Homo sapiens: one gene and its partner. The protein of the gene in region 2 binds, or shares a complex with, the protein of the main gene of each other region. Each region holds a gene or a part of one and is shown on either strand. Other genes may lie near its edges.

What was found.
Region 1: the proteins of STON2 (region 2) and EPS15 are in contact, whole or in part, in an NMR structure (PDB 2JXC), measured with the Homo sapiens proteins. Residues at the interface, in NP_001353779.1 of Homo sapiens: Trp309, Arg310, Ala311, Thr312, Asn313, Pro314, Phe315, Glu318, Gln321, Asp322, Gln324, Pro325, Ser326, Ile328, Asn329, Pro330, Phe331, Phe334, Phe335, Glu337, Gln338, Glu339, Arg340; in NP_001972.1 of Homo sapiens: Leu139, Gly148, Lys152, Pro153, Val154, Leu155, Leu156, Asn157, Ser158, Lys159, Val162, Asp163, Leu165, Gly166, Arg167, Trp169, Glu170, His176, Gly178, Met189, Val192, Tyr193, Leu196, Glu197, Lys198.

The regions. Positions count from the first base shown.
Region 1 is NC_000001.11:51,401,284-51,416,613, forward strand, and holds part of EPS15 (epidermal growth factor receptor substrate 15), read right to left. Parts: intron 8,414-15,330; coding exon 8,252-8,413; intron 7,050-8,251; coding exon 6,852-7,049; intron 4,826-6,851; coding exon 4,622-4,825; intron 2,250-4,621; coding exon 2,136-2,249; intron 1,243-2,135; coding exon 1,152-1,242; intron 1-1,151. UniProt on the Homo sapiens protein: Involved in cell growth regulation. May be involved in the regulation of mitogenic signals and control of cell proliferation. Involved in the internalization of ligand-inducible receptors of the receptor tyrosine kinase (RTK) type, in particular EGFR.
Region 2 is NC_000014.9:81,392,020-81,407,875, forward strand, and holds the start of STON2 (stonin-2), read right to left. Parts: upstream 8,306-15,856; 5' UTR 8,260-8,305; exon of another isoform or gene 7,762-8,259; intron 6,562-7,761; 5' UTR 6,364-6,561; coding exon 6,276-6,363; intron 4,160-6,275; coding exon 3,875-4,159; intron 1-3,874. UniProt on the Homo sapiens protein: Adapter protein involved in endocytic machinery. Involved in the synaptic vesicle recycling. May facilitate clathrin-coated vesicle uncoating.

The DNA of each region.
Region 1 (15,330 bases), on a different chromosome or scaffold from region 2:
AAAATTCTTACAGGATTGAAGAGTCCAGAAATAAATCCTTACCTTTATGGTCATTTGATTTTTGACAAGCGTATCAAGAACACAAAATGGAGAAAGGACAGTCTTTTCAACAAATGGTGTTAGGACAACTGGATATCCACTTGCAAAAGAATGAAGCTCGACCTCTATCTCACATCATATACAAAAATAAACTCAAAATGGATCAAAGATCTAACTGTAACAGCAAAACTATAAAACTCTTAGACAAAGACAGCATTAAATCTTTGCGACTTAGGTAATAGTTTCTTAGATGACACCAAAAGCACAAGTGACAGAAGAAAAAATAGATAACTGGACTTCACCAAAATTGAATAAACACTTTTCCAAAGAAGATACACAAATGGCTAATAAGCATCTAGAAAGATGTTCAACATTAGTCAGTAGGAAAATACAAAGCAGGCCAGGCGCAGTGGCTCACACCTGTAATCCCAGCACTTTAGAAGGCCGAGGCAGGCGGATCACCTTACATCAGGAGTTCAAGACCAGCCTGGTCAAAATGGTGAAACCCAGTCTCTACTAAAAATACAAAAATTAGGCCAGACGCGGTGGCTCACGCCTGTAATCCCAGCACTTTGGGAGGCCAACGTGGGCGGATCACGAGGTCAAGAGATGGAGACCATCCTGGCCAACATGGTGAAACCCCGCCTCTACTAAAAACACAAAAGTTAGCTGGGTGTGGTGGCAGGCACCTGCAATCCCAACTACTCAGGAGGCTGAGGCAGGAGATTAGCTTGAATCCGGGAGGCAGAAGTTGCAGTGAGCCGAGATTGTGCCACTGCACTCCAGCCTGGCGACAGAGCGAGACTCCATTTCTAAATAAATTAATTACATAAATAAATAAATACACACATACATACATACATACATACATAAAATTAGCTGGGTGTGGTGGTGGGCGCCTGTAGTCTCAGCTACTCAAGAGGCTGAGACAGGAGAATCGCTTGAACCCAGGAGGCGGAGGTTGCAGTGAGCCGAGATCGTGCCACTGCACTCCAGCCTGGGCGACAGACTGAGTTGGTAGGCTATTGAAACTGAAGCCTTGAATCCTTAGTTTATATATTAAAAAGTCTTTTTTTTGGGTAAATCTATAATATAAAAAAAAGAGTACTTACTGCCAACAAAAGGATCAGACTGGAAAAAATCCAAGTTTGTATCTGCAACTGGACCTGTCAGCGAACTTGAGTCTACATTAAATGGATCTTCCTAAAAATAATTTTAAATTAAAATTATTTTTTAGAAACCAAAGTTTTAAAAGGTAACATTTTAAAATAAAATAACACACATTCAGGTCATACACATGCTTTGAAAAATCAACTGATGGGCCAGGCACGGTGGCTCACACCTGTAATCCCAGCACTTTGGGAGGCTGACGTGGGCAGATCACAAGGTCAAGAGATAGAGACCATCCTGGCCAAAATGGTGAAACCCCGTCTCTACCAAAAACACAAAAATTAGCTGGGCATGTGCAGCTACTCAGGAGGCTGAGGCAGGAGAATTGCTTGAACCTGGGAGGTGGAGGTTGCAGTGAGCCAAGATCACACTACTGCACTCAAGGCTGGGTGACAGAGTGAGACTTGGTCTTGAAAACAAAAGGAAAATCAACTGATGGTAATGTAACAAATATCTCTCTAGTCATAAAGCACCTTTAACACATTTTTCTCTTTCCTTCACCTTAACATATTTTTCTCTTTCCTTCACCTAAAATAGTGTATAATTCATCTGAGGAAAACAGTGATAAGGACATTTTTTTAAAATATCATTTAATTTTTAGAGATTAGGTCCCTCTATGTTGCCTAGTGCCTCCAACTCAGGCTCAAGCAATCCACCTACTTCACCTCCTGAGTAGCTGGGACTACAGGCACTTGCCACCACATCCAGCTATTAAGAACATTTATTTATTTTATATGTATAAATTCAAGGGGCACAAGTGGAATTTTGTTACATGGCTATATTGCCTAAAGGTGAAGTCGGGGCTTTTGATGTATCTATCATCTGAATAATGTATATTGTACCCATTAAGTAATGTCTGATAATTCACCTCCTCCTGTCCTTCCACCCTTACAAGTCCCCAATGTAAATATAAAATCATTTTTTACCTCTTTTGAATGTCTATTATTGTCGAGTTCAGAACAAACTTTTTCAGTAACAGCTGTAGTCACCTCATTTTCATCAGTCACACCAGAAGGCAGTAGTTCAGGACTACTTCTTGCCTACAAAATATTAATGCAAGTAGATTAACAATATACTTTTTGACATGGCAGAGAAAACTGACTAAAGATAACCAAAAACTATTTAAAAATAAAAAAAGACAAGCAGAATGTATTCATCAAATAACTTCTCCTTCTATAATCTTTTTTAGGGAAATGGTGTCATCAAGCATCAAAGTCACTCATGTCAGAAACCTTCAGGTCATCTTTAATCCTCAGAATATGACTCCAAGTCTTGCTCAGTCTACCTCTTACCTCTTTTTCAAATCCTTGCCTTCTTCTCCATCCTCACTGTCACTATCAATCACTTATAGTACTATCATCTTTGGTTCCAATTACTATAGCAGTCTTCCTTCCAACTGCTTTCCTGCCTCCAATACATGTATTTCCAATCTCTTCTCCTTATTGTAGCCAAACTAATAGCTCTAAAATGTGGATGTGATCGTGACCCTTCTGGTTAAAAGTCCTTCAATGGCTTCCCATTGTCTTCTTCATTTAGACGAGTGGGTGAAAGACTTAAGAAGTAGTAGGGGCAGGCCGGATGCAGTGGCTCACACCTGTAATCCCAGCACTTTGGGAGGCCGAGGCAGGCAGATCACAAGGTCAGGAGATCGAGACCTTCCTGGCTAACACGGTGAAACCCCGTCTCTACTAAAAATGCAAAAAATTAGCCAGGTGTGGTGGCACACGCCTGTAGTCCCAGCTACTCGGGAGGCTGAGGCAGGAGAATAGCTTAAACCCGGGAGGCTGAGGCAGGAGAATAGCTTGAACCCAGGAGGCAGAGGTTGCAGTGAGCTGAGATTGCGCCACTGCACTCCAGCCTGGGCAACAGAGCGAGACTCCGTCTCAAAAAAAAAAAAAAAAGTAGCAGGGCAATAGCTACTTTATACCACCCTTATCTATTTGCAGGATAACCTAGTAATCTGCCTTTTGCGCTTGAAAGAATATTTTATAATGCATACATGACTGCACTGTGTAAATAAAATCGAGTCTGTTAACTTTTCACTTTTAATACCTCTCAAACTTCTATTCTTCTCATTATCCCTTCTACGGGTACAGTCTCACTCTCTAATCCGTTTTCCACATTTCTAAAAGTTAATCACGTCACTTCTTGCTTAAAATTCTTCAATGGCTGTTCATTGCAGTAGGATAAATCCCCCAATGCTTTAAGATGAATCTAAATTTCTCATCTTCTGGCACTTTCTGACCTAAAATTGGTCATTTTTATCCAGGTGCACATGACAATCACCCATAGAGTGTGTTTTTAAAATATACATATCTGGCTCTATCCCAGAAACTAGTTCAGCAAGTTTGGGGAAAGGGATACACATTTATACTTTGACAATCACCAGAGGTAATGCAGATGCCTACTAGAAGCGCCTCATCTCTTACCAATACCCTCTCCACCATCACAAGATATCCTTCAGAACTTCTCAAGATTCTGTGCTGCATGTATTCTTCCACCTTGTACCTATACTAATACTGTTTTCTCTGGCAGGAATGTATCCTCCTCTTCTTTGCTTAACCACTTCTCACTTGTCTAAACTCGCAAAGCTTTCCCCAACAAAATCTTTATGAACCCCCTCCAAACTGTCCTAACTGAAAATTCTGCGCTTCCTTTAGCACAGCCCTTTAACACAGTGTTACACTACTACACTGTAGGCTGCTTGAAGGAAAGACTGAGGTCTCTTGTCTCTGTAGCTCTTATATTATGTAATACAGCACTCTTGCACATAGTTGGTACTCGTCAAATAATTGGTAAATGAATGTCCTTAACACTACGTAATAAAAATAATTTTAGCTTTTGGTGAGGGTACTTAAAAAAAAAGTTTTACTCTATAGAACCACCATTTTAAAAACAGGCTCTACAAAAAATAAATTAGCTGGCTGGGCGTGGTGGCTCACGCCTGTAATCCCTGCACTTTGGGAGGCCGAGGCAGATGGGTCACTTGAGGTCAGGAGTTCGAAACCAGCCTGGCCAACATGATGAAACCCCATCTCTACTAAAAATACAAAAAATTAGCTGAGTGTGGTGGCACGTGACTGTAATCCCAGCTACTCAGGAGGCTGAGGCAGGAGAATTGCTTGAACCCAGGAGACGGAGGTTGCAGTAAGCCAAGATCGCACCACTGCACTCCAGCCTGGGCAACAAGAGCAAAACTCCATCTCCAAAAAAAAAAAAATTAGCTAAAGTTATCTTTTTATACTAGTTAAAACGTACAATTGTTTGGATTAGGACTCTCTGCTTCTAAAAAGGAAATCTCAATTGTCCTCAGATGAGGCAAGGCCATGTATTTATATTAGATATAATGTCAGTGAAACTTGGATCTGCACAAGGAGGTTGATTATGAAGGTTATGAAAGTATTAGACTCACTGGAGATTCCTGGTGTATGGGCTCAGACTCTAGGTTGCTCTGGCCTTCAACATGTTCATTAAGGTTGGCTGTTTCACTGCTGCTGGTGCTGAGGCTGCAATAATCTGTAGCTCCGTTTACAAGAATGCTGTGTGGGCTACTGCACCAATTTAACTGACTATTATGATTTTCCAAATCTTTCATTTCCATCAGTTTCATTTGCATCTGCCAACACAAAGAAGAAATATAGAACAGAATTTATTACTAGAAAGACATGTAACATAAAAACGCCCTCCTCCACTTCCTGACGGGCTAGGTGTGGTAGCTCATGCCTATAATCTCAACACTTTGGGAAACTGAGGCAGGAGGACTGCTTCAGCCCAGGAGTTCAAGACCAGCCTGAGCAACACGGTGAAACCTCATTTCTACAAGAAATATAAAAATTAGCTGGGCATGATGGAGTGCACCTGTAGTCCCAGCTACTCAGAAGGCTGAGATGGGAGGATCACTTGAGCCCAGAGGTCAAGGCTGCAGTGAGCCATGATCACACCACTGCACTCGAGTGACAGAATGAGACCCTGTCTCAAAAAAATAAATAAAATAAAAATGGCTATACCTGTAGACTTGGTCTAGGATACATTTGCTTCCTTTAAGAAGAATCCTCTGGGAATGCTACGTGACTTAGAGAAAAGATTCAGTAATTTCTGACAATAAGTATTTCTCTCTTGAAATTTTAGTATACATGGATTTTTTTTTTAAAGAGATTCAAAAAAAGAAAATACTTTAAAGAATACCCATTCATCTGGTAGCATTCTCACTACAACAACTCTTTCAGGTTACCTGTTTATTGAGTACCTACACTGGGACAAGAACTGTGCTAAATGATACGGATTTTTAAAAATGTGTAAGTTCCCAGACCAAAACCATGACTCTGCTAGGGGAGACAGACATATAAGCAAATATGCAGGGAAAAATCTTATTATTGCTGTAACATAAATACAAAGTCCAACAAAAGCAGGATGCAGAAAATACCATAAAGAAATAAGAATTTAAGGTATATCTTGCATGACGAATGAGTAGGTAGGTACTCAGCTGCCAGATAACAGGGGGTAAGGAAGCGCAAAAGTGAAGGACTTCATTATATGTAATAACTGAGCACACTGGACTGGGTTTTAGAAGAACTGGATTTTAGATGTAGCTCTTTTCAAGGATATGTAACCTTGAGAAAGTTACTTGAACTTCCTTGGCTTTAGTTTGTTCAAATTCATAATGAAAGAAATCAACTCCATGATCTCTGTGTTTCTATCCTTTTTTTTTTAGTTTTTATTTTTTGAGACAGATTCTCACTCTGTTGCCCAGGGTGGAGTGCAGTGGTGTGATCTGAGCTCACTGCAACCTCTGCCTCCCAGGCTCAAGTGATTCTCGTGCCTCAGCCTCCCAAGTAGCTGGAATTACAGGCAGGTACCACCATGCCCAGTTAATTTTTGTACCTTTTAGTAGAAACAGAGTTTGGCCATGTTGGCAGGGCTGGTCTCGAACTCCCGGCCTCAAGTGATCCATTGCCTCAGCCTCCCAAAGTGCTGGGATTACAGGCATGGGCCACCACCATGCCGAGCCCTAACTATCTTATCATTCATTAAAACATTAGTCTTCATGTAGGGAAACCTGGAAATAAAGCAAAGGATCTATACATAAGACCAACTATAACACTGCAAATTTATCTACAGAAGGAACAATTTCCTTAAGAAAAAAGTTTCCAAATTAGCAAATGTGAATTCAAAATTAGAATCACAAAACAGAAGAAACTAGGTTATTGTTTATAAAACAGGCAACACTTATGGAGCATTTATGTACCAAGCACCATGCTAAAATGTCTTACAGGTTTTGCCTCATTAATCCTCACAGTGGCCCTAAGGGGTAGGGTATTTATTAATCCTCCAATTTTGAAGATGAAGAATCTGATACTAAGGTGATTTAGCTAGTAAGTGGCACACCAGTACTTAAACCTAGACCATCTAGCCACAAAGCCCACACTCTTAATCACTACTCCAATGATAATCATCAGATAGATATACAAGATGTATGATAGTTTCAATATATAACAGGTGACAAAAAAACCTATTGTATAAAATGACTGAAAAATGAACAGTAAACTAGGCAAGAGGTTGAAGGAGCAGAAGTTGGAAAGTATAACTGACTAAAGGACACAGAGGATCCATTTGAATATATTTCTTGCTTTACAAAGACTTACTGAACTAATTTCCTGTTGTGAATCTTGTAGGTGCTGCTGAAGAGGTTCCAACTGAGCCTTCCCTGACTCTACACTCTCCTCCAATTCTGCTGTTTCTTGCTGTAGACGGCTCAGCTCTTCTCTAGCTTTTGCCAATTCTTCTTCGTAAGTGGAGATCTGCGATTCCTGACTAGTTAATTCAGCTTTCAGAGAAGAGATCTATAATGTGAAAGTGAATGAGAAGAAATGGGGATTAAAAGAAGAGATGTCATTAAAATGTTCCAAAATGCAATACATTTATTTGTTTAGTTTACTATTTTGGTGTTTTTTTTGACAGCAATAGCAAATAATTTATTTAATTTAATTTTTGAGAGAGAGAGTCTTGCTATGTTGCCCAGGCTGGATTCAAACTCCTGGGCTCAAGTGATCCTCCTGAGTAGCTGGGACTATAGGAACATGCCCAGCCATACCTAGCCCTATTATGGAGTTTTTGATGTTGTTGTTGTTGTTGATGTTTTATTTTTTTGAGACAGTCTCACTCTGTCACCCAGGCTGGAGTGCAATGGCACGATCACAGCTCACTTCAGACTTCAGGCTCAACTTTCCCAGGCTCAGGTGATCCTCTCACCTCAGCCTCTCGAGTAGGTGGGATTACAGATGTGGGCCACCACGCCTGGCTTTCAATTTTTTTTTTTTTTTTTTTTGAGACAGAGTCTCGCTCTGTTGCCCAGGCTGGAGTGCAGTGGCGTGATCTCAGCTCACTGCAAGCTCCGCCTCCTGGGTTCACACCATTCTCCTGGCTCAGCCTGCCGAGTAGCTGGGACTACAGGCACCCGCCACCGCCCTGGCTAATTTTTTGTATTTTTAGTAGAGACGGGGTTTCACCGTGGTCTCGATCTCCTGACTTCGTGATCCGCCTGCCTCGGCCTCCCAAAGTGCTGGGATTAAAGGCGTGAGCCACTGCACCCAACCAGCTTTCATATTTTTTGTAGAGATGGGATTTCTCCATGTTTCCCAGGCTGGTCTCCAACTCCTGGGCTCCAGCAATTCCCCCCGCCTCAGACTCCCAAAGTGTTGGGATTACAGGTGTGAGCCACTGTGCCCAGCCAATTATGATGTTTTTTGATGTATGGTTTTCGTAAAGAAGGGTAACTGGGGGAGGGACAGAGGAGAGTTGAAGGTATAGGCACCATATTTCCAACAAAAATTTGGAAAAACAGTTCATTAACTGCCCTTCTATTTCCTCTAAAGAAGGCCTGTAATTTCTGGATGAACCTTGCTCCATCGCCCCCATGAACCCAAATGCTGACTGGATTGCCAACCACCACCATCAATAACAAAAAGTAGAGAATGTTTTCATCTTAAGCCAGGAAAAGCAACTAATGTATAGGTGCAGGCAGCAGGAAACAGCCAGACATTACCAGTTGGGCCTCCTCAGCACATTTCTTTCTGACTTCCTTGAGTTGCTCCTCCAGCTGGGCTTTCTGCTCATCCAGTTCATCAAGGAGTTCCTGTACCTGCTGTTTCTGGGCCTGTAGTTTTTGCAGATTAGTATTCTCCCTTTGAACTTCATCTTGAAGATCCTAAAATCCAAGAAAATTAATATATTTATTTTCTTTGCGGGCAGGGGAGGGTTAAGTTAGTAATTTTAAATCTACCTTAAGAAAGAATAAAGTCTTACTGAGTATACTGTGTTGATGAGACTAGGGTACTTAACAGCTTTAAATACAATCTTTACTTGAAGACATCTTTCCTAGAATCCATATTTAGATATTCAATTTGCTAACTCAAATCTGTCCTTGGACATGTGATGGGCTTTGCTAACATGTTGAAAATAGAACTCCTGGAATTTCCCCACAAATCTGTTTTAAGCTCAATCTTTCCCCTCTCAGATTCTCTGGTCAAAAAAAAACCCCACATGGAGAAACCCTGTCTCTAACAAAAATGCAAAAAAAAAAAAAAAAATTTAGCTGGGCGTGGTGGCGCATGCCTGTAATCCCAGCTACTCGGGAGGCTAAAGCAGGAGAATTGCTTGAACCCAGGAGGTGGAGGTTGCAGCGAGCCGAGATCATGCATTGCACTCCAGCCTGGGCAACAAGAGTGAAACTCCATCTCAAAAAAAAAAAAATTAGCTGGACGTGGTAGTACGTGCCTGTGGTCCCAGTTACTTGGGAGGCTGAGATGGGAGGATCTCTTGAGCCCAGGAGGTCAAGGCTGCAGTGAGCTGTGATCATGCCACAGCATGCCCAGACTGGGCAACAGAGTGAGACACTGTCTCCAAAAAAAAAAAAAAGAAAAATTAATTCCAGGTAAATAATGGACCTGAATGTAAAAGTCTAACTTTAAAATGTGTAGAAGAAATGCAGATCTCAGTGTAGGAAAAGATTTCTTAAAACAAAAAAAGAACCATTTTGAAAATGTTATTTATTCATCCATGTACATACCAGACCTCATGCTTAATAACAAGAACTACAGAAATTTTTAAAAAGCCAGGCGCAGTGGCTCAGGGATTAATAACTCCGAAGTATCTGTCAGCAGGAGGTAGGCAAAGATTTCAAAGCGGGTGAGGTAAAACTGAACACAAATTTCTAAAAATAATATCTATTCAAAGGTCCCAACAGTCATTCACCAGAATAAGAATCTAAGAACAGAAGAGAAACTTACAGGTAAAAGGTCTCTGAATTACTGCATAGGTTACACAAGATAGCACCATTATGATAATAGCCAACACTTTAAATGCTACTTAAAATGTGCTAGGTTGTGCTCTAGGCTCTTTAAATATACTAACTTATTTATAGTCTATATGACAGATCTACGAGTTAGGTACTGATATCATTTCATATTTTACAGATGAGAAAACTGAAGTACTGATGTGTAGGTAATGTGTCCAAAGTTAAAAATAGTAAGCTATGGATTCAAAGTGGGTTCTGACTCCACAGCCTGAGCTCTTAACCACCATGTGACATACCATCTGCAGACTAAATGTCTCACATGTGTCACTATTTTTCAAATATATGCAGATGTTTCTGTGATTAAATAGAACACTGAACAATGCTTTCAATAATTGCTTTTTATCTTATATTTTCTTAACCAACTGGTTAGTCTAAAAATATCATGTTGCTTTCTTTAAAAAATTCCTTTAAAGCCCAGGCAGAGCAGGCAGACAAAAAGGGAAACTCAAAGGCAGTAGCCTTTGAATTCCTCAATGATACTTGAGGAATTCGGACAATGTTTGATGAGTATCATCAACTCTGCAAAGAAAGGCAAAAAGTGACCCTTGTGCCATGAATTGCTAACTCTTGCACAAAGGACTGATAAATGGAACTGTACAGAGAATTTAAGATACAGGGACACTTGATTTCTGGAAGAAAAACAATTTCTGTATTTTAATTCAGTCCTTATTTTAAGAGACTTGAAATTATAATATTGAAGGAGAAGAAATTTTAAATGAGGAAATAAGTACATTTTAAATCTTAGTTAAATATGCTTATGCCCCTTCTAAATTGAATTTTTCTTTATTGTATTATATAGAGTTTTGCTTTGCCTAGGTTTCTTAAGAATCAGATGTTCTCTCATTAACCCGTCAGGAAACAACAGAAGCTGGAGAGGATGTGGAGAAACAGGAACGCTTTTACACTGTTAGTGGGAGTGTAAATTAGTTCAACCATTGTGGAAGACAGTCTGGCGATTCCTCAAGGATCTAGAACCAGAAATACCATTTGACCCAGCAATCCCATTACTGGGTATATACCCAAAGGATTATAAATCATTCCACTATAAAGACACATGCACACGTATGTTTATTGCAGCACTATTCACAATAGCAAAGACTTGGAACCAATGCAAATGCCCACCAACGATAGACTAGATAAAGAAAATGTGGCACATACATCCCATGGAATACTATGCAGCCATAAAAAAGAATGAGCTCATGTCCTTTGCAGGGACATGGATGAAGCTGGAAACCATCATTCTCAGCAAACTACCACAGGAACAGAAAACCAAACACCACATGTTCTCACTCATAAGTGGGAGCTGAACAATGAGAACGCATGGACACAAGGGAGGGGAACATCACACACCGGGGCCTGTCGGGAGGTGGGGGACAAGGGGAGGCAGAGCATTAGGACAAATACCTAATACATGCAGAGCTTAAAACCTAGATGATGGGTTGATGGGTGCAGCCAACCACCATGGCACATGTATACCTATGTAACAAACCTGTACGTTCCACACATGTATCCCAGAACTTAAAGTATAATAATAATAAAAAAGAATTAGATGTTCTCTTTCTGATTCCTTTGACAAAAATGTTTATCAATTATTTACTATAATTTATTTTAAAAATTCCTTTAAAAATGCCAACACAATAGATGATCATGAAAGACTTTCCAGTGCTAACATTCCGTGAGTTTGTGTGATCACAGTTTCAAACTGGTGAACTCCTTTAGTACTTTATCATTAATTTACCAGCATGCCTAATTTTTTTCATGTCTAAATTTTTAACCTTGCCTACACTGTTAACTAATCCATACCATATAGAGATACGACTTTAGATATGCACATGGCATTGGCTCTGAATAAACCCATGCCAAAAGAGAAAAATGACTTCAATTTCTGTATCACCCAGTCTAGTAACTTCAGATTCATCTTTGATTTTCTCCATTCATACATGTCCTATAGATTCTACCTTAAAATCTCTCTTTAAGCTGTTTACCAAATTATTTTAGCTTTCATCGTTCCTTCCTTGACATACAACTGGGTTTTCTCCCTTTGTTTCTTCCTATTCCAAATGTCCAACTTGCTTAAAAAATAACTCACTGCAAAGGATATTTCTCTAGTCACTGTTATTTTTAAAATATGTGTTGTTCCCTCTTATCTAGAGGATTAAGTAAAACTTGCTGCAAGACACATTAAAACCTTCAGTTCTGGGTTCTACCTTCTTTTCCTCTCATATTCACCTGTGTCCCAGCCTCAGAAGACCCTATTCCTTCTCCAATAGACAACATATTTCAATGACCCTATGCCTTTCCACAAGCCATAACCTCTGTCTTCAATGTCCTTCCACACCATATGTACCTGGAAACCCACTATTGATTCTTCAGAATCCAGCCAAATTTAATCTCGTCTGACTCATCTTGGGCTTCCTTCACCTATGCTCAAACTCTACTGTTTGTTCCTAACCTCTACTGTCATACTTAATACACTGTAATCATAGCTAACCTCTAAATTACAAACTTCTAAAGGACAGTGTCCATGCTTCATCTTTCTTTGATTATCCAAAATCTTGTACAATGCCTAGCACATTCCAGGGGCTTAATTAAGCAATTACTGTAACTATCATAGGATTTTAGTATGTGGGAAAAACTAATGGGAAACACGCATGAGACTGACAGAAAGAAAAGACTTACATTCTTTTTACATAATGTGAAACACTTCACTATGTATTTAAACTATAGCTATTTATTAATACCCCAAACTGACCTATGACAAATGCTTTTTAAACTTTTTAAAATAATACCTACATTTCTAAACTGATTCAGTATTTTTATAATCTATAGACCAAGGCTGATCTGACATTTAAAACTTTCATTATTTGGAAATAATCATTACTGCTTTAACATGTCACTGTGGCATATACCTTTATTTTTTTAAGACAGGATCTTACTCTGTCACCCAGGCTAGAATGCAGTGGTATAATCACGGCTCACTGTAGCTTCAACCTCCTGGGCTCAAGTAATCTTCCCACCTCAGCCTCCCAAGTAGCTGAGGCTACAGGCATGTGCCACCACGCCTGGCTAATTTTTAAATTTTTTTGTAGAGATGGGGTTTTACCATGTTGCCCAGGGTGGTCTCAAACTCCTAGGCTCAAATGATCTGCCCGCCTCGGCCTCCCAAAATGCTGGGATTACAAACATGAGCCACAGTGCTTGGTCTAGTTCAGCTATAAAATATTTTAAAAGAATGTTACCTGCAGATCTAAAGTAATTTTGTTAGTTTGAAAATACAATCTATTGAGCCGGCAAAGTGGCTCATGCCTGTAATCCCAGCACTTTGGGAGGCTGAGACGGGTGGATGACCTGAGGTCAGGAGTTCGAGACCAGCCTGGCCAACATAGTAAAACCCCATCTCTATTAAAAATACAAAAAATCAGCTGGGCGTGGTAGTGGCCGCCTGTAATTCCCGCTACTAGGGAGACTGAGGCAGGAGGATCACTTGAACCCAGGAGGCAGAAGTTGCAGCAGTGAGCCAAGATGGCGCCACTGCACTCCAGCCTGGGCAACAAGAGTGAAACTCCATCTCAAAAAAAAAAAGAAAAAAGAAAATATAATCTATTTTGAATTCCTTACTTTGTTCATAAAATTATTATATAGGTTTATATAACAATATGCTGGTCCCAAAAGCATGTTTTAAATCCTAGAGGGAAAAAAGTTTTTTCTCTTTCCCTTTAACTAAAAATGTTCAAGAGTGGGAATAGGAAAAATATGTTATCTATCCCCATTAGTAAATACTCTAGTCATATTCCCCACCCTCCCTCATACCCCAAAGAAAAATATTCTTTATCTACTTCATGTCTCTAATAATATCTTTAAAGCCAGATGTAATTTTGATGTCTTTTATTGTAAATCCAGGGACAAAAAACACAATTTACCTTAAAAGGGTCACACAATATAAGAAAATGTCTAGGACATGATACTAAGTTTTAAAAGCTGAATACAGAGGCATATACAGTATGATCACAAATTAATATAAAGAAATTTATACATATTTGTAGAAAATACAGCAAAATGTTAACAATAGCTCTCTCTAGAAAGGCTTTTTACATCTTTTTCATACTTTTCTTCATTTTACAAATTTACCATGAACCCATGTTACTTTTATAATCAGAAAATGTCAAGTTTGCTGTTTTTTTTAAGTATCACATTGCTACCAATATAAAATATAAAAATACCAATACAAAAATATTCTGATGTGACTAAATTTTTATGTAAGAACTACCAATAATAGAATCAATGCTGGTTTCCTTTAATAAACTGAACTATTTTTCATAAATAATATTTTTAGTGAGCCACTTAAACACAACCTCAAAAGACAGGCTTATGTAAGAGGAAGACAAATAAACAAACCAATATAATATTTACTTCTTTCTGCCCTTTCTCTCCCAAAGAGCAAACACATTCATTCAAATTTCCCAGACTCACTGCCCTTTTTCATTTCTTAGCTTCAGTAAAAATCCACATAGTAATACAAAACTACAGGACTTAAAGGAAAGGTTACTGAGGAAATACCTAACATTAATGAGAAACTTCAAGCTGGAACGATGTCCATATTAAAATTCATTATAATTAATGTCTCTCTATGTCTATTTCTAAATATGAAAAAAGGTCTATAAAAATTCTGGGCCAGGCGTGGTGGCTCACGCCTGTAATCTCAGCACTTTGGGAGGCTGAGGCTGGAAGATCACCTGAGGTCAGAAGTTCGAGACCAGCCTGGCCAACATGGAAAAACCCCGTCTCTACTAAAAATAAAAAATTAGCCAGGCGTGGTGGCGGATGCCTGTAATCCCAGCTACTTGGGAGGCTGAGGCAGGAGAATCACTTAAACTTGGGAGGCAGAGGTTGCAGTGAGTCGAGATCGTGCCATTGCACTCCAGCCTGGGCAACAAGAGCAAAACTCCGTCTCAAAAAAAAAAAAAAAAAAAAAAAAAAAAAAAAAAATTCCAACACTAAACTACATACAAAAAGGCCTTCCTTTCCAGTATACAGAATTAAAATTATTAAACTGCACAAAATCAAAATGAACTCATGCAAATATACATGCTAATAACAAATTTCACTGGAAAATTATTTGTAAGGCTACCACCATCACAATGCAATTTCAATATCAATATCAGCATCTAGATATACTTAGCAACTTTATTTTGGTACAGATTGCTTATCCTGAGACTAAATTAAGGCAACAGATGTACCTCTCTCTCTCTTCCTGCTCTCTCCTCCCCCGCCATGCCCTTAACTAGAGCAGTGGAAGGTTCTCCTAACAAACAGTGTCTTCTGCTGAACTTGGGTAATTTTCTCTTTCCTAAACGTGGCCCTTGGGAACATCCTTTCCTGGGTCTGTGCACAGACTCAGCACTATCAAATGCCATTCCCTCCAGTGAATGACAGAAGACATTTGCAGATGCTTTCCTAGTTCTGCTTTATTCCCCTGATCATGGTCTACTTGCCTACTAGTGCCATCAACAGCAAAAGAAAGGAAGATAGCAGCAGCTGAAGCATGGCAAGGATGAAGTGAACAAAACTAGAGCAATATAGTGCCAAGGTTTATTTTAGAAAAATATCAAAGCAAGCCATATCCGAGGTTACTCATCTAGAAATTAAAGGATATTTGAGCTGGCAATCTTGGCTTTACTTAAAAAGAAATTTCAAGGAAAACGTCCTGTTTTCTAGAAATCACTGAAGTTACTGAAAATGGCAAATTATCTGCTATCCCTCTATCCCCC
Region 2 (15,856 bases):
ATTAGGCTAAGGCAAGTGACACACTTGCCTTGGAGGTAAAATTTAAGAGGGTGCCAAAAAACTCAGTAATCAAAGTAACATTTTAAGGCAATATGTTAAAAATATCAACTCAAAATCAAAGCAGCAAACTACAGCTCACAGGTTGACTATCTCTGTAAATAAAGCTTTATTAGAACCAGTGAGACAGCCAGAGGGGAGGGGGTTCCCAGAAAAACTCCAACTGGCCTGTGCACTGGGGTGGAGCTGCGGAAGTTTGTGCCACTTGCAGCAGGGAAGAGCCTGGCCCCTCCTCTTCCTGTGTGGAACCTGGGATTTGGGCGCGGTCCGGAAGTGCTCTAGATGAACTCTGGCCTCGCTGAGAGTCCCTGTTTCCCCTCTTTTTTCCTTTTCACCCAATAAAGCCCTGCTTTACTTACCCTTCAAACCATCTGTGAGCCTGAATTTTCATGGCTGTGGGATGGACAAGGACCCCATCTTTAGCTGAACTTTAGGAAAATTCCTGCAACACCAGGTCCAGGTGGGCCAAGTGTAGCATAGTCATGAAAGTGTTAATTGAATCTTGTCTTTAAAGTACTGATATTTTGTTCATTAAGAATTTTTTGCATTATGTGATTTTAAAAAATAATTTTAAAATAACTTTAATTTTTAAACTGAATTCTTAAATATTTTTTTAAAAACTTTTTTTTCAAGACAATTATTACAATTTGATATGGAGCAAAAGTGCTTCATGTATTTTTTCCCAATCTGTCACAGAGAATGTTAAAAAGACATACTCAAGAATCACAATTTTAAGAAATTAATAATTTTTACTGCCTCATCAAGGATATTATTGGGTGAAATATACATTTTGTTTTACTGTGAGTAGACAATGGCCAAAAGTTTCATCTGCTGTTATTTTTTAACCATCAATGCAAATGTCAATGCAGTGAAAAGGCAAATAACATCTTAGAATTAGAATGAAAATGATTTTAACCCCAAAGACGCCTTGAAAGGGTCTCAGGAGACAGCAAGGTCTATGGGCCAGACTGTGAATTGCTGCCTTAAAGGGTAAAGCTTTCACAATATATCAAAAGCATTGTCAGTCACAAGATAAGATCCTCAGTCAGATGGGGGCAACATAATTATGACTAATCTCAAAATTAGTTTTGGAAAAATCAGTGAAGAGTTGAGCAAATTGACTGTCATATAAATAGTTTTGAGCAATCAGGAAATCTTTGAGGCTAAAGATAAAATGTGAAAGAATCTGAATGGCATGAATATAATCCATGACCTGAAGGCACGGCCATTTTAGGGCAGCAAAGTGGAGAAAGAGCACCCCACCCATCACTTACCTTCCATTCCTTGCCCCCACTGCCTCCTGGGTAATGAGGGAGCAGAGGATACTAGAGCAGCAGCAGCAGCAGCAGCAGGAAGAGTGAGGCAAACGGAAGGAGAGCACAGGGCATCCGAAGGCTGCTCCAAGACCTTGGGGCCGGTCAGCCTGGTGCGGAAGCTCTCCTGCCATTTCCTAGCACACAATCTTGGTTGAATTCCCAAAGCCCACTTCTGGCTGAGTCTCCTCCACCATGTGTAATATGGATTAATATTAATACCTTCCTCATACAATTGTTGTAAGGAGTACATGATATGAAGTAGCTAAGGCACTGAGCACAGAAACTGAGACAATAAGTATGCAGTAAATGTATCATATTAAGCAGAAGGAACATTATTTCTGTGCTCATTCACTGCCCAGTGTTCCGTAACTTTTCCCTACATGCATCAACACTTAGCCCAGAGCCTTCTCAGTGTTAGGTGTTCAGTAAGGGAAGCCTGTCTGGACCTGTCACTTCTTCCACGCTGCACTGAGAGTCATGACTCAATGACAATTCATGCAGAAATCTGATGTTTAGGCTGGGCATAGTGGCTCACGCCTGTAATCCCAGCACTTTGGGAGGCTAAGGCAGGTGGATCACCTGAGGTCAAGGAGTTCGAAACCAGCCTGGCCAACATGGCAAAATCCTGTCTCTACTAAAAATACAAAAATTAGCCAGGCATGGTGATGGGTGCTTGTAATCCCAGCTACTCAGGAGGCTGAGACCTGAGAATTGCTTGAACCTCAGGGGCAGAGGTTGCAGTGAGCTGAGATTGCACCACTGCACTCCAGCCTGGGCAACAGAGCAAGACTCCATCTCAAACAAAAAAAAAAGGAAATCTGATGTTCAAATATGAAAAAATAGACATAAATGTGCAAATTATTATGTAAAAATATAAATGTTTGTTACAGAATTGTTTTATATTTTCTTAAAATCATTTTAGTATTGAAAACACACTGAAAAACAAAGGAATCAGCCTTAAAAAGTGACACTAGCAAAACATTTAACACACCAACAGAAAAATATATCAACCCTGCTTTTTGCTAGTAGGTCTCTGTGGTAGACAGAATGCCTCCCATTCTACCCCAAGATGTCCACATCTTGATTTCCAGAACCTGTGAATATGTTACTTTATATGGCAAAAGAACTTTACTGATGTGATTATGTTAAGGACCTTGAGATGGGGACATTATCCCGGTGAGCCCAGTGTAACCACAGAGGTCCTTAATGCCTGGTGAGCCCAACATAACCACAGAGGTCCTTAATGGAAGACAAAGGCAGATGTCAGGGAAAGATGTGACTTCAGAAGAAAGGCACAAAGAGATGCCACATTCCTGGCTTTGGAGATAGAGGAAGGGGCCATATGCCAAGGAATGTTGACAGCCTCTGAAAGCTGGGAAGGGCCAGGAAACAGACTCTCCCCTAGAGCTTCCAGAAAGGAACACAGCCCTGCCAACACCTTGATTTTGACCCGGTGACACCCATGATGGACTTCTGAAATACAGAATCATAAGATGATAAACTTATGTTGTTCAAGCCACTACACTTGTGGTGACTTGTTACAGCAGCAAATAGAAAACTAATACAGTCCCAAAGCTTATCCAATCACCTGTGGCATACTTCAGTGCACAATAAAGAAGTAGCCAGGTCACCAGGATGGGGACTAACAAGTCCTACAGCTTTACTAAGCTCCCCAGTGCAGCTTCTGGCCATTGAAATGCCACAAAATAAGAGATTTCTCATGAACAACCATCCCTACCCATGAGGATTTGGATTCAAGAGTTCTGAAGTGTGAGAATATCCATGTTTAACAAATCCTATTGGTGACTTGGTTAGACATGGTCAGTGGTCCACACTTTAACACACATTCATTTCTGTTTTTATTTTTTGGAGACAGAGTCTAGCTCTGTCACCCAGCCTGGAGTGCAGTGGCGCGACCTCAGCTTACTGCAACCTCCGCTCCCAGGTTCAGCAATTCACATGCCTCAGCCTCCTGAGTGGCTGGGATTACAGAAGTGCACGACCACGCCCAGCTAATTTTTGTATTTTTGGCAGAGACGGGGTTTCTCCGTGTTAGCCAGGTGGGTCTCAAACTCCTGACCTCAAGTGAGCCACCCTTCTCGGCCTCTCAAAGTGATGAAATTATAGGCATGAGCCACCGCACCCAGCAGAAACATTCATTTCTGTATGTAAGGTGCTTACAGTTTAGGGGCTGAGTAAATATAATTCCAATCCCTAATAGAAAAATATATATGCATTATTTTAAAGACAAGTCAACAGCCAGGGACAAGAGTAAAGGACTAGAAATGTCCTAGAACACATACATTCTTTTGTATGCTTATGTCAACAAAAACAAGTTACAGAATTAAACCAGATGAGAACTCCGTCTGCTCTCCCCTATGCGACCAGTGCTTCAGGGTTAGGGGGCAGATGAAATGGAATCCTGGCAGCCCTATAGACCTCTCACTGAAAAGCATCCCTGCTGACCACAAACCCAAGCCGGGCCCTTCCTACCTCCTCACCTGTCTCAGCTGTTTCCTGATGAGGTGGAGATGTGCTGGCCCAGGGTGTGTCATCTTCAAACTGAACCCAGTTGCTGATGGCCGAGGCCAGGTCAGGTGGGGGCTGCTCAGGGCTCCCAGGTGGGGAAGCTGCTTCAGAGATGAGGCCCATCTTTTCAGAGGAGTCATCCTGCTCCGAGTGGGAATGGTCTTGAGAGCCTCCATCCACCACATGGTTCTCCCCGGAGGAGCTCTCGGACTGGTCTGGGGAAGATGACAGTCCTGGGAGGTGCTCTTCCGTGCCCCCTGAAACAGATACCAGACGCCACCATCATGTGAGGAAGGCCGCTCTTCAGAGCCATCTCATGGAGGCAAAAACTAAGGATGACCATGGGGTGCCCGCATGACTCGCCACTGCAGTGAGTGGGGAGAAGAAAGAGCCACACCCATCTGACTGCATGTTAAATGACTGTTTCCCTAATCATGTGTAAATGCTGTAAGCTCAGCATGTCTCCAGTCAGTATCCTGGCAGGCAGAGACTAGGAGCCTTCTTCACTATTCTTATGCCAGCATCTACTCCAGTGCTTGGGGGTCACAAAGGAAAGTGCTTACAGAGGTCAAGTAGGAAATATACCTGAGTCAAGTGAGACAAGTGAAAGGCAAAAGGGACTGGTGGGGACTGTGGCTGAACAAGAGCACTTCTGTCTGAAGACATTCAAATTCAAATTTCAAATTCTTTGCAGTCTAAGCTATACACAGCCACAGGACACCAGGTGCAAACCCATGTGCACTAATGACCAGCTGAATGTAACCTAGAGGTTATTTCTGCAGCACTGTATCACTTGATTGGCCCCAGAAAATTAAACAGCCTTCAAAAATTTTTTTTTTGGAAATTAAAAAACCTGGCCGGGCGCAGTGGCTCATGCCTATAATCCCAACACTTTGGGAGGCCGAGGTGAGTGGATCACCTGAGGTCAGCGGTTCGAGACCAGCCTGACCAACATGGCAAAACCCCATCTCTACTAAAAATACAAAATTAGCCGGGCATGGTGGCACATGCCTGTAATCCCAGCTACTTGGGAAGCTGAGGCAGGAGAATCGCTTGAATCCAGGAGGCGGAGGTTGCAGTGAGCTGAGACTGCACCACTGCACTCCAGCCTGGGCAACAAGAGCGAAACTCCGTCTCAAAACAACAACAACAACAAAAAAACTATATCCTGATTATGGTGGTAGATACACAAATGTATACATGTGCTGAAATTCATCAGCTGTACAACAAAAGAAGTCAATTTTTCTGTATAAAGGTTTTTAATCAAATAATTAATATAAAATCTTTTCTCCCATCACTAGCCAACCGGTCCATCTGCAAGTATTCAAAGCCTCTACAGCACGTCAAACAGAAATAAAATGTGAGCTACATATGTAATTTTAAATTTTCTAGTAGCCACATGAAAAAAATTAAACACAACAGGAGAAAGTATTTTAATAATACACATTTCAACCCAATGCTGAAAATTTATAATTTCAACATGTAAGAAATATAAAATTATTAGCTATTTAATTTTTTTAAACTAGGTCTTTGAAATTTAGCATAGGTATCTGATGCTTACAGCACATCCCAATTCAGACTTGTCACATTTCAGGGGCTCAGTAACCACATGGCCACCATATTGGAGAGCATACCTGTCGACTCACACTTTCTAGGTGTTATAAATGACGGTGGGATGACTTCAGTTGGCACTGGTAGCTGTAGTAGAACAGAACCAACTCACATGTCTCTGCAAATATCTCCTGGATCCTACCTTGACCTTCATCCCTGAGCACAAGTTCTCCAAAGTCAATATAGTCATCCTCCTTATGATCAAGGATGACCGTACTGAGCTCTTTCCACGTGCCAGGCACTGCTCTAAGCACTTTTATGTATGAATTCACTTAAGCCTCACAGCAACCTGTGAGATAGGTACTGATTATCCCTACTGTACAGATAATGAAGCTATGCATGGAGAGGTTAAATAAATAATCTACCCAAAAGCATATCACTCATCCCTGGTGCAACAGGGATTTGAACCCAAGCACTCTGGCTCCAGAGCCTGTCACTTTTAACAACTACTTTTAATAACTACATTTTAAAAAGGCTGAGAGTAAAGTATTTGGTAAATATTAAGTTTTTGTTTCTTGGGAGAAAAGAGCCACTACCTTTGGTGTTTCCAAGCCTCTTTTTAGGGCCCTAAGGTTCCCAAGATGCTTTTTCAGTGTGTAAATTCTTCCACTTAGGATTCTAAGATCTCAAGAAAGAAAGTGAGAAACTGACCCTTTTTTCTATATTAAGATCCCACCCAAAGAATAATCAAGTAGAAGCCATAACAAATAGACATGGTTCTTTGACAATCTCTTCACTTTAGGAAACGAAGGCACTCCTTACCCTGCGAGTGGGCAGGAAAGGGTGGCTCTTCATTGAAGGAGACCCATTCTGACTGGTGGGTGGCAATCACATGGTCCAAAGTCGTCATGCTAAAAAGGCACTGGTCATCTTCACACTGCTGACCTCAGGTGAACCCCAGAATACTGTCTGGGGTGGGCTGGAGTAGGGGTATGGTAGTACGGTAGACTTGGGTCCAGGGTCTGTTCTAGGTGTCTTGCCAAGGGCAGTACTCAGAATGTAGACAGATCAGCCTCTCTTGCCGTTGGTTAATCTGCCAGGCAGAAATCTGTTTAACAAACAAACAAACAAAAAATTAAAAAGGATAACCATCACATTACACTGAATCCACATAGGTCTAGGGCTTTTAGCGCTGCCCACAAGAAGGCTTGGGGTGGTTTCCAACTTGCCTTACTTCACTCTGTTCCTGTCATGCCCTCACCTTTTATACTGAAATGTCTGTCTTTAGCATCAAGGTTTCTAGATAAGCCTTCATATCACACTTGCAAATAATTACACAAATTTCAGCAATTAGATTCTCTAATTTCCCTAATTATTGTATTTTAGAAATATTGTCATCTATAATACTATCATTGCTAAACAAATATTAAAACTTTTCAAAATGCTTTCACTTTCTCTTACTAGCTGGCAAAATAAAAGCATGTTCTTTTCTATTAAATTAGTCCAGTTTCTTGCCTTAGGCAGGTAACTCTTTATAAACCTGATTTAAATCTCTGGCAGAAACCCAACAATCTCCAGATGGTATCTCCAAGCATGGTTTATCAATCAAGAAAAATAGAAATGAAGTGATCTTGTTCATTTGGAGTAAGAGGATAGGGAACATCTGTGGTAGTGAAAAATGTGAGTTAGAGTAACATTTTCAATCTAGGCCTATTTAAATTAGTTACAATGGTCTAGCCTTTGCTCACACTGCAATTATGTTCTAGGAATACAGAAAGATTCTTAATTGACATAATTTTGTTCATGGTATTAATATCTTTTTACAACCTGAACCTAGCTCTTGATCTAATAATGATTTATAATGAATTAATAAAATCTGAATTTATCTAAAATTAATGTGCTTCCATAGAAGAGCTACTATATACCTTGAACAATATCAGTTCTTATTAACTAAATATACACAATATTCAGATAGTTTCTAGAACAACTTAACTCACAGTCTTCCAATTGCTGCACAATGAAAAGTTTAGGAAATTTTACTACAGGTTATCATCTGCAGTAAATAATCTCTAGGTGGGAAAATCGGTAAAAACATGAACAGCTTTTGCTTTTTTGGTGTTTAAAACAGTTTTGGCATATGATGCTTCCTAAAAACAACTAATGTTTATATAGAATTTATAATTTTCAGAAACACATTTTCATACCATACTTCACTTGATTCAGTAGCCATTTTGATGAGTAGGACTCATAGTACTCTAATTCTTCTATGGATAAAGAAATTTGGGCTGAGAAAAATTAAGTGACTTACCTAATACTTTTAGTGCTTCCAGGCCCTTTTGGTAAAATGCTTCCTCCAGGCTAAGTGGAAGAGTTTACAAATCTCAGCACAGTGGCTGACTTTTCTTCATAATAAGATCTCACCCAAAGAATAATCAAGTAAAAGCCATAACAAGCAGGTGTGTTTGAAGCACCACACTAAGTGATAGATCCAACCCTTGAGCCCAGGTCTTCTGCAGCCAAAACACTCTAACCCTGGTGTCACAGCCGCAAAGAAGTACAACAGAATACAGTACATATAGACTATCACCCAACTTAAGTACTTTACAAATATCAATTACAATGGAACTGTAATGAAATGTCCGGGAAACTCCCCATGTGAAAGTTTGCCAGCACACCCCAAGCTGTATAAAGGATGGGAAGCCCAGAAGCCTCTTCTCCAAGTCCCTCTCCTAGGATCCTTGCCAACCACAAGGCCAGACATAGGCAAACAGCCTGGAGAGAGCAGGTCTCCCAAACCAGATCTTACCAGAGAGCAGTGCAGGGTCCACAAGCACAAAGAGCTGATTCCCACTGGCTTCTGCCTTTGACGACTTTCTCAAGCCCTGTCAAATGTGTGTCACTCAATGTGGTAATGGCTGCGGGCCAAGATAAGGCAGTAAAATTGAAGAGTCAGATTCCTCCTCTTTCAACGACAGCAGCATGTAAACCAGCCCCACAGCACCCGTCAAAAAAAAAAAAAAAAAAACCCACAATACAAGTCCCTATGCTGACACATGCAGTGTCATCACTCAATGGGGAAAACATCCTGCCAATCCTGCAATGATGAACCCAGCAAAAGTCATGGATAAGTGGGGTAGGGAAGAGAACAGGGGACGAAGGTGAAGGTAAGAGGAAAATATTTAAAAATTTTAAACTGAAAGGTTTTAAAGATCAACAACTTCAGGTGTTATGAGAAAACTGAGGCCCAAGGAAATCAGGCACACGAATAGAGATTGTGATCACAGGCCCAGGAGTTAGGTTGTTCGGATTTGAGTCCTATACAGTCTTGGAGTCCTATACAGTCGTGGACTCATAACTCAACCTCTTTAAGCTTCAGTTCAACCTTGTACAGAAAGAATAATAAAACTCACTCCATAATTCCGAGGATTAAACAAGATAATGTACGCCAAGTACTAAGGACTGGATGTAATAAACCCTCTGTAACGATGACAATGAAAACAGCAGGTGACCTTACAGAGGGCTTACTGTGCCCCAGGCTCCATTCCAAACCAATGTTAGCCATCGCCAGCACTGCTGCTATTGTTAAATGACTCGCCCAACGTTGCGTAACTTGTTCGTAGAAGTCTTGGGACTGGAATGCAGATTTCATGAAACCACTGCATTTCTGTCATTTGCAGAATCTGGTTTCAGTCATTGTTCAAAATGCTAAGTAGAGTCATGTGCTCAGCTACAGTGCCCAGAAGGCAGATTCTAAATCCTCTTCATTATAGATATAGGTGCATTCTGGCCAAAGTACCAAGACCATTCCTCAGAACGTATGAACGAAAAAAGAGCCCCAAAACTTTATCTATCCTTCCTTCACTTGTCCCAGACCAGACATGGGCTGGTGACAGACAATGAGTGGTCCCAATGAAGACTGGTGGAACAAATTGATCACATGGAACCCCCCATCATATTCCATACCATAAATCCATAAAATGGATTTTAGGTATTTGCCATGGAAGAGCCACACCAATAAGCCATAAGAAATCAGACCTTGAAAAGTGCTGTGCTAAGCAGCTGGAAACCCACAGAAGAACCCAATAATTGTGAGGTTAAGTTCATACTGGAATTAGTTGCTTGGTAAAAACCTCACCCCATTTTTAGAATGTGAATCATAAAATGAGGTTTAGAATCACCACAAATGAGTGGTGACTCAGTATCAGCAGGAGGATTGACCAACAGATGCTAAAAGTTTCATTGAAGTCTTGGAGTTGCCATTTCAGAGAGCTACTTCTTTCTCAGCATTATACAAAAATTTGTAGAAGGGAGAATGCAATTGTCTGATAAGATGGGGGTCATAGAAGTAGTTTTGTCTTATGACAGTCCTCTAATTGCCACAGTTTAGCCGTAGGGAGATCTCTGAGAGTTGGAACCATATGGGACTGGGTGGGTTTCTGAGATGTGAAGGATGTCCTTGATTCTGGACCAACAGAGGGACAAGTGAGGGAAGCCTCTGGACAGGGGATCACCGCAAGTGACAGTAAAAATCAGAAGCAGACCTTAACAAGGTGTGTTTCTGTCTGAACAAGCCTCTGTCTGATGAGAGCAGAGGTATCTACTGGGGGAATATGGAGTGAAGGGATTGATTGACCATAAAAGCTAAGGAGAGTTCAAGGGGAAATGAGAAGCTGTGGGAGGTTTAAAAGCAGAGAGTGACTCAAGAAGTGTGCTTAAGGGAGATAAGCCTTCCTCAGACAGTGCTGGACAGAAGCGTGGTGATGGAATTTTTCAGCCATCAGTACCTCCGGTGTGTCTCACAAAGTTGGGGGGCACAGTCATCAGGAACATGTACTGTTTCTGCCCATTCTAGGGCCTGAGGGTCAAGGGAGAACAAAACAGCATCTCTGCCCTCAAGCAGCTGTCAACTGCAGGGAGATACCACAGCAACCTAAAACAATAACCTCTGCTCTCTAACCTATTCTGGTGGTTAGTCACCAAAAGTAGGACAGCAGCAAGTAAGAGTGTTAAGAGACTTCTGAGAGCTTGAGCTATAGGTGGTCTTGAACTGTACCCTAAGCCGGAAAGGAGGGGTCTGAGCAAAAGAGCTGAGGGGCACAGGCACTCAGGAAGGGGGAGCAGGAATGGTATGTCTAGCCCACAGTGAGTTACACTCTGTTCATCTGAAGAGGGTGTCAAGCATCCTGGAAAAGGAGCTCTAAGTTTCAGAACGAGTTTGAGCTCTGGAGCTTACCCTCTCCAATCCCACTGCCAATGCCTTGGCTCAGCCCCTCATGATCTCTCACGCAGACAGTTGCAAGTCTCCTACCTGTCTCCCTGCCTTCAGTATCACCTGCTCAAACCTACTATCCAGCCTATTATGGTAGAGTTATCTTCCTAAAACCTGAAAATGGCTATGCTACAGCTCTGCTTACAGCTCCTCAAAGTCTCCTCACAGGATAAAATGAGGTATGAGAAATGAACAAAGGATTCCTGAGAGCAGGGGTTGCATGCTATACCCTCAGCATTGAGCATAGTGCCTGGCACAGGTTAGCAGCTCAATAAAAATTGTCGTATAAATGCAGGCACTTTGTGAATCTGGCCCTGATCCACCTCTCTAATCCCATGTGTCATTCTCTCCCCTTGTGAATCCTATATTCCTGATGAACTGAGTTATTTGAAAGACTGTGTTTTTTAATATACTTTGTCCTATTCGATCACTTGTTCATATATTAATACATTATTAAATACTATATTTGGGATACATTTTCCCTACATTTTTATTTCATGAGCTCCTGCTCACCTTCAAGTCTTAGCTCAATCATTATCTCAGGCTTGGCTCAACAAGCATTTATGCCAAGTGGCAATCACTGAATGCAAAGATAAAGAACACAAATTATTTTGCCATAAAACCTTTATAATATGCATGCTCATTGTCTTTTGCCTACTCAACACCCAAAACTCCTTTCTTTTTCGAGAAAAAAAATATTATCTTTACATCCCTCCTGGCAATTAATCCAGGCTTTGTCAACGGCTGCTAGAATATTGAGGGAATGCTAAAAGGTACAAGGGCCTTGAATACATGCAAGAGTGGCATGCGAACAATGGAAACTTGACCCAAGCCCAGAAGCAGGCACAACTCAATTCCGTGGCAATGGTGACAAGTGCAGCATCCTAACCAGACCCATGGTGTGACTCTGTCTCTGTTTACTGCCGGCTAGGTCCTATGGCTCCTACCTATTTTCCAAGCCACGTTTGAGAGTCATCTGGCAATCCAATGAGCTCTTTCATACCCTTGAATAGACTTCTTTCCTGCTTGTATTAGCCAAAATTAATTTCTGTTGCTTGCAACCAAAAACTCTGATCTATGGTGGTACTCCTCAACTTCCAATAAGTAAAGTACCACACTTCCCACTTGCCCTTTATCCCCCATATCTTCTGAATGCTGATACTATCTTAACTTACACTCATTTACCAAATTATAATGAAATTATTTGCTAATGTCGCTATATGAGGAAAGGGACTTGATCTTTTGCTTATTGATGTCTTTAACTCTTAGAATAGGGTATGGCTTTTAGTAAATGCTTGTTGGGTAACCAGCTGAATGAATGAATTTGCCTTAACATACAGTAGGTAGCCTCTTCAGCTCTTTTGAGACGTTAATAAATGTTTTAGGAAGGTTAATTTAAACACTATGTGTAAAACAGCTTCGGAGAAAATCTAGATATAGGGAAATATGTTCATTCCCCTTTCTCTTTGATCTAAAATTATATCATCCAATTCCAATACAGCAGACACTAGACATAGGGACTACTGATATGTGGTTAATCTGAATGAGTTGTTCCTTAAGTGTAAAATATACACCAGACTTTAAAGAGTATAAAAAGGTGTAAAATATCTAATAATTTTATACTGCTTTCATGTTAAAATGGTATCCTGGATGTATTAGCTTAAGTAAAACATACTGTTAAAATTAATTTCACCAGTTCCTTTCAACTTTTTTAAATGAAACTACTAAAATATTTAAAATCATATATAAGTAGCCCACACTATATTTCTTCCTTTTTTAACTGAGACAGGATCTCACTCTTGCTCATGCTGGAGTACAGGGCACTATCACAGCTCACTACAGCCTTGACCTCTGCAGGCCCATGTGATCCTCCCACCTCAGCCTCCTGAGTAGCTGGGTCTATAAGTGCACACCATCACACCCACCTAATTTTAAAAAATGTTTCCGTAGAGACAGGGTCTCACTCTGTTGCCCAGGCTGGTCTCAAACTCCTGGGCTCAAGCAATCCTCCCACCTCAGTCTCCCAAAGTGCTGGGATTACAGGCACAAGTTACTGCACCTGGCCTCATGGTATATTCCTATTGGACAGCAATGCTCTAAAGCAGTCCATTTTTTATTTCATCCTTGATTTTGAAGGCTACTTTTCACAAGACAGAGAATTTTTCCTTCAGTATTTTGCCTTTTGGTCTGAATGTTTCTAATGAGCAGTTGATTATATGTAATTACTCATGCTTATATAATGTGTCTTCTTTCCTCTAATGGCTTTCAATATTTTCTCTTTATCTTTCATTTTCAGCAACTGACTATAGTGCATTTGGATGTAGTTTTCTTAGAACTCATTTTACTCGAAGTTAGTGGAGTTTCTTGAATCTGTATGTCCATTTTTTCATTAAATTTGGAAAAACTAAGTCAGTATTTCTTCAAATGTGTTTTTCTGCCCCTTTTCCATCTCTTCTGCTAATCTGTCCTTGCGTTCACTGACTCTTTCTCTTCTCATCTCCATTCTCCCATAAGCTTATCCCATGAATTTTGTATCTTATTCAGCTTTTCCATTTTATAATGTTATTTTACAGTTTCTATTTCTTTGCTGTGATGCCTTATATATTCACTCATTGTGACAATATTTTCCTTTAGTTCTTTGAACATATTTATAACGGCTGCTTTAAAGACTTTGCCTGCTAAATCCAACCTCTAGACCATTTGGGATTAGTTACTATTGTTTTTTTTTTTTTTTTGCTTGACTATGGTTTTTATTTTCCTAAGGTTTTTACTTTCCTAAGGTTTTTTTTTTTTTTTTGCATACCTAATAATTGTTGGTGATACACTGAAGACCTTCTGGATTTGACTTTCCTCTGCAGAGTGCTGATGTTTGTTCCAGCAGGCAGTCTGACCAAGTGCTGCTCGCCTAGAGCTTGTATAAAGCTTGGTCTTTTACTTCATTGGATTAATTTGTTTCCCATGGCCCTCTAATTGCCATAGGACTCAATTTCTAAACTCTGTCTCCCCTGTAGATCTTGACAGGGTATGATGGTTAATATTGAGCGTCAACTTGATTGGACTGAAGGATGCAAAGTATTGTTCCCAGGTATGTCTTTAAGGGTGTTGCCAAAGGAGATTAACATTTGAGTCAGTGGACTGGGAGAGGCAGACTCACTCTCAATCTGGGTGGGTACCATCTAATCAGTAGCTAGTGTGGCTAGAATAAAGCAGGCAGAAGAAAGTGGAATGACCAGACTTGCTGAGTCTTCTGGCCTTCATCTTTCTCCCATGCTGGATGCTTCCTGCCCTCAAACATCAGACTCCAATTTCTTCAGCTTTTGGACTCTTGGACTTACACCAGTGATTTGCCAGGGGCTCCTGGGCCTTTGACCACAGACTGAAGGCCACACTGTCGGCTTCCCTACTTTTGAGGTTTTGGGGCTCGGATTGGATTCCTTGCTCCTCAGCTTGAAGACAGCCTACTGTGGGACTTCACCTTGTGATCAATACTCCTTAATAAACTACCCTTCATATATACATCTATCCTATTAATTCTGTCCCTTTAGAGAACCCTAACACACAGGGCTTGGTTCTAGGCTTTGCTAGGGTAGCTTAAAGTAAATCTTACTCTAGAGCATGGGCTGGCAAACTACAGCCACAGCCTAAGTCTGACCCTCTGCCTTTTTTGGTAAATAAAGTTGTATTATTAGTATATTTACCAGCCACACTCATTAGTTTACATATTGTCTATGGCTGCTTTTGGTCTACAATAGCAGAGTTGAGTAGCTGTGACAGATACTGTATGGCTCACAGGGACTGAAATAATTACTGCTCAATAATAATAACTACTGGCCCTTTACAGAAAAAAATTTACAGACCCTCCTTGAGAACATGATCCTTACCCCTAAGACACAGGCTTTCCATACTTGGTTGGATGCTTGAGATGTTAATAAGACGTTAACGAGCTCTTTCCACTGTGGCTGGGCTGGACCACCAATGTCCCCCACTATTGCCTGATGTCCAGTATCTTTGTCCCATTCTCAATCCTCCAGCAGCCACTCTATTAAGCTCTGCATGGTTTCAGTGTGCACCTGTGCACTCTAAACTGGCCAACGGTTCTCTGGGTACACCCAGACATACTTCTGCTCCTCTCTCCCCATCCCCATGCTCTCTGCTCCCCAACTCTCTGCTCTCTGGTGCCCTGTCCTGCAGATTCCAGCTGCTTCAATTGCCCCAAACTCTGATCTCTGTTTTCTTAGCTCAGTATGACTGCTGTGCTTGGCTTAGACTCCAGCTGACCACACTGCAGTCACGAAACTCTTCCCTGGAAAAGAGCCAAGGCGAGTGTCAGGCTCACCTCAGGATAGAAAATCTTGTGCTGCCTGTTGACCGAAGCCTGAAAACAGTTGCCTCATAGATGTTGCTGTTTTGTGGTTGTTCGCTGCAGAAGAAGGGCTAGTTACCAAGTATAACCAGAACTGGAAGTCCTCCCCTGGAACATTACTTTCTGACTTGTGTTCACTTTTAAAAAGAGACTAGTTCAGACATCTAAATACAGGTCATTTCACAGTAATGTACTGAAAATTAATTGGAAATTTTACAGAAATTTTATAAATTATATGAGAATAAAAGGAAGGTTTCACTCAGCCATATAGATTAATTCCATTGCTCCAGAGCTGGGAAAATGATTTATTTTGTTAGGTTAGCTATGCTATATAATACAAAAACATTACTTGTGCCTGGTTAGTGATCCAAAAGAGGTTGTTAAATCTTTGGCCATCTTCCCTGTCTACCTCTTTTTCATAGGTATTAAGCTAGGTAGCGTCTATGAAAATCGCCACATCCACTTTTTGGGTTTGAGACTATTGGCAACCACTGTCCAGTCATCTGTTTGGAGTTTATGCAGAAACATCTTCAACTAGATCCTGGTGTCCATTCCAAACCCACAAGTAAGGCCTCAGTTTTCTCTTGAATAAGGACAAGCATCTAAAGGTCAAATCAAAAGCTACAAAGAAAGGAAGAATGGGAAAAACAGACTACATAAATTCTACATATTTCTTTACAGTGTTCTTCTAAAGCAAGATATTCAGCTACCTTATTGAGCATCTATTATGCACTCAGAATTGTGCATAGCACAGCGACACAAGATAATAAC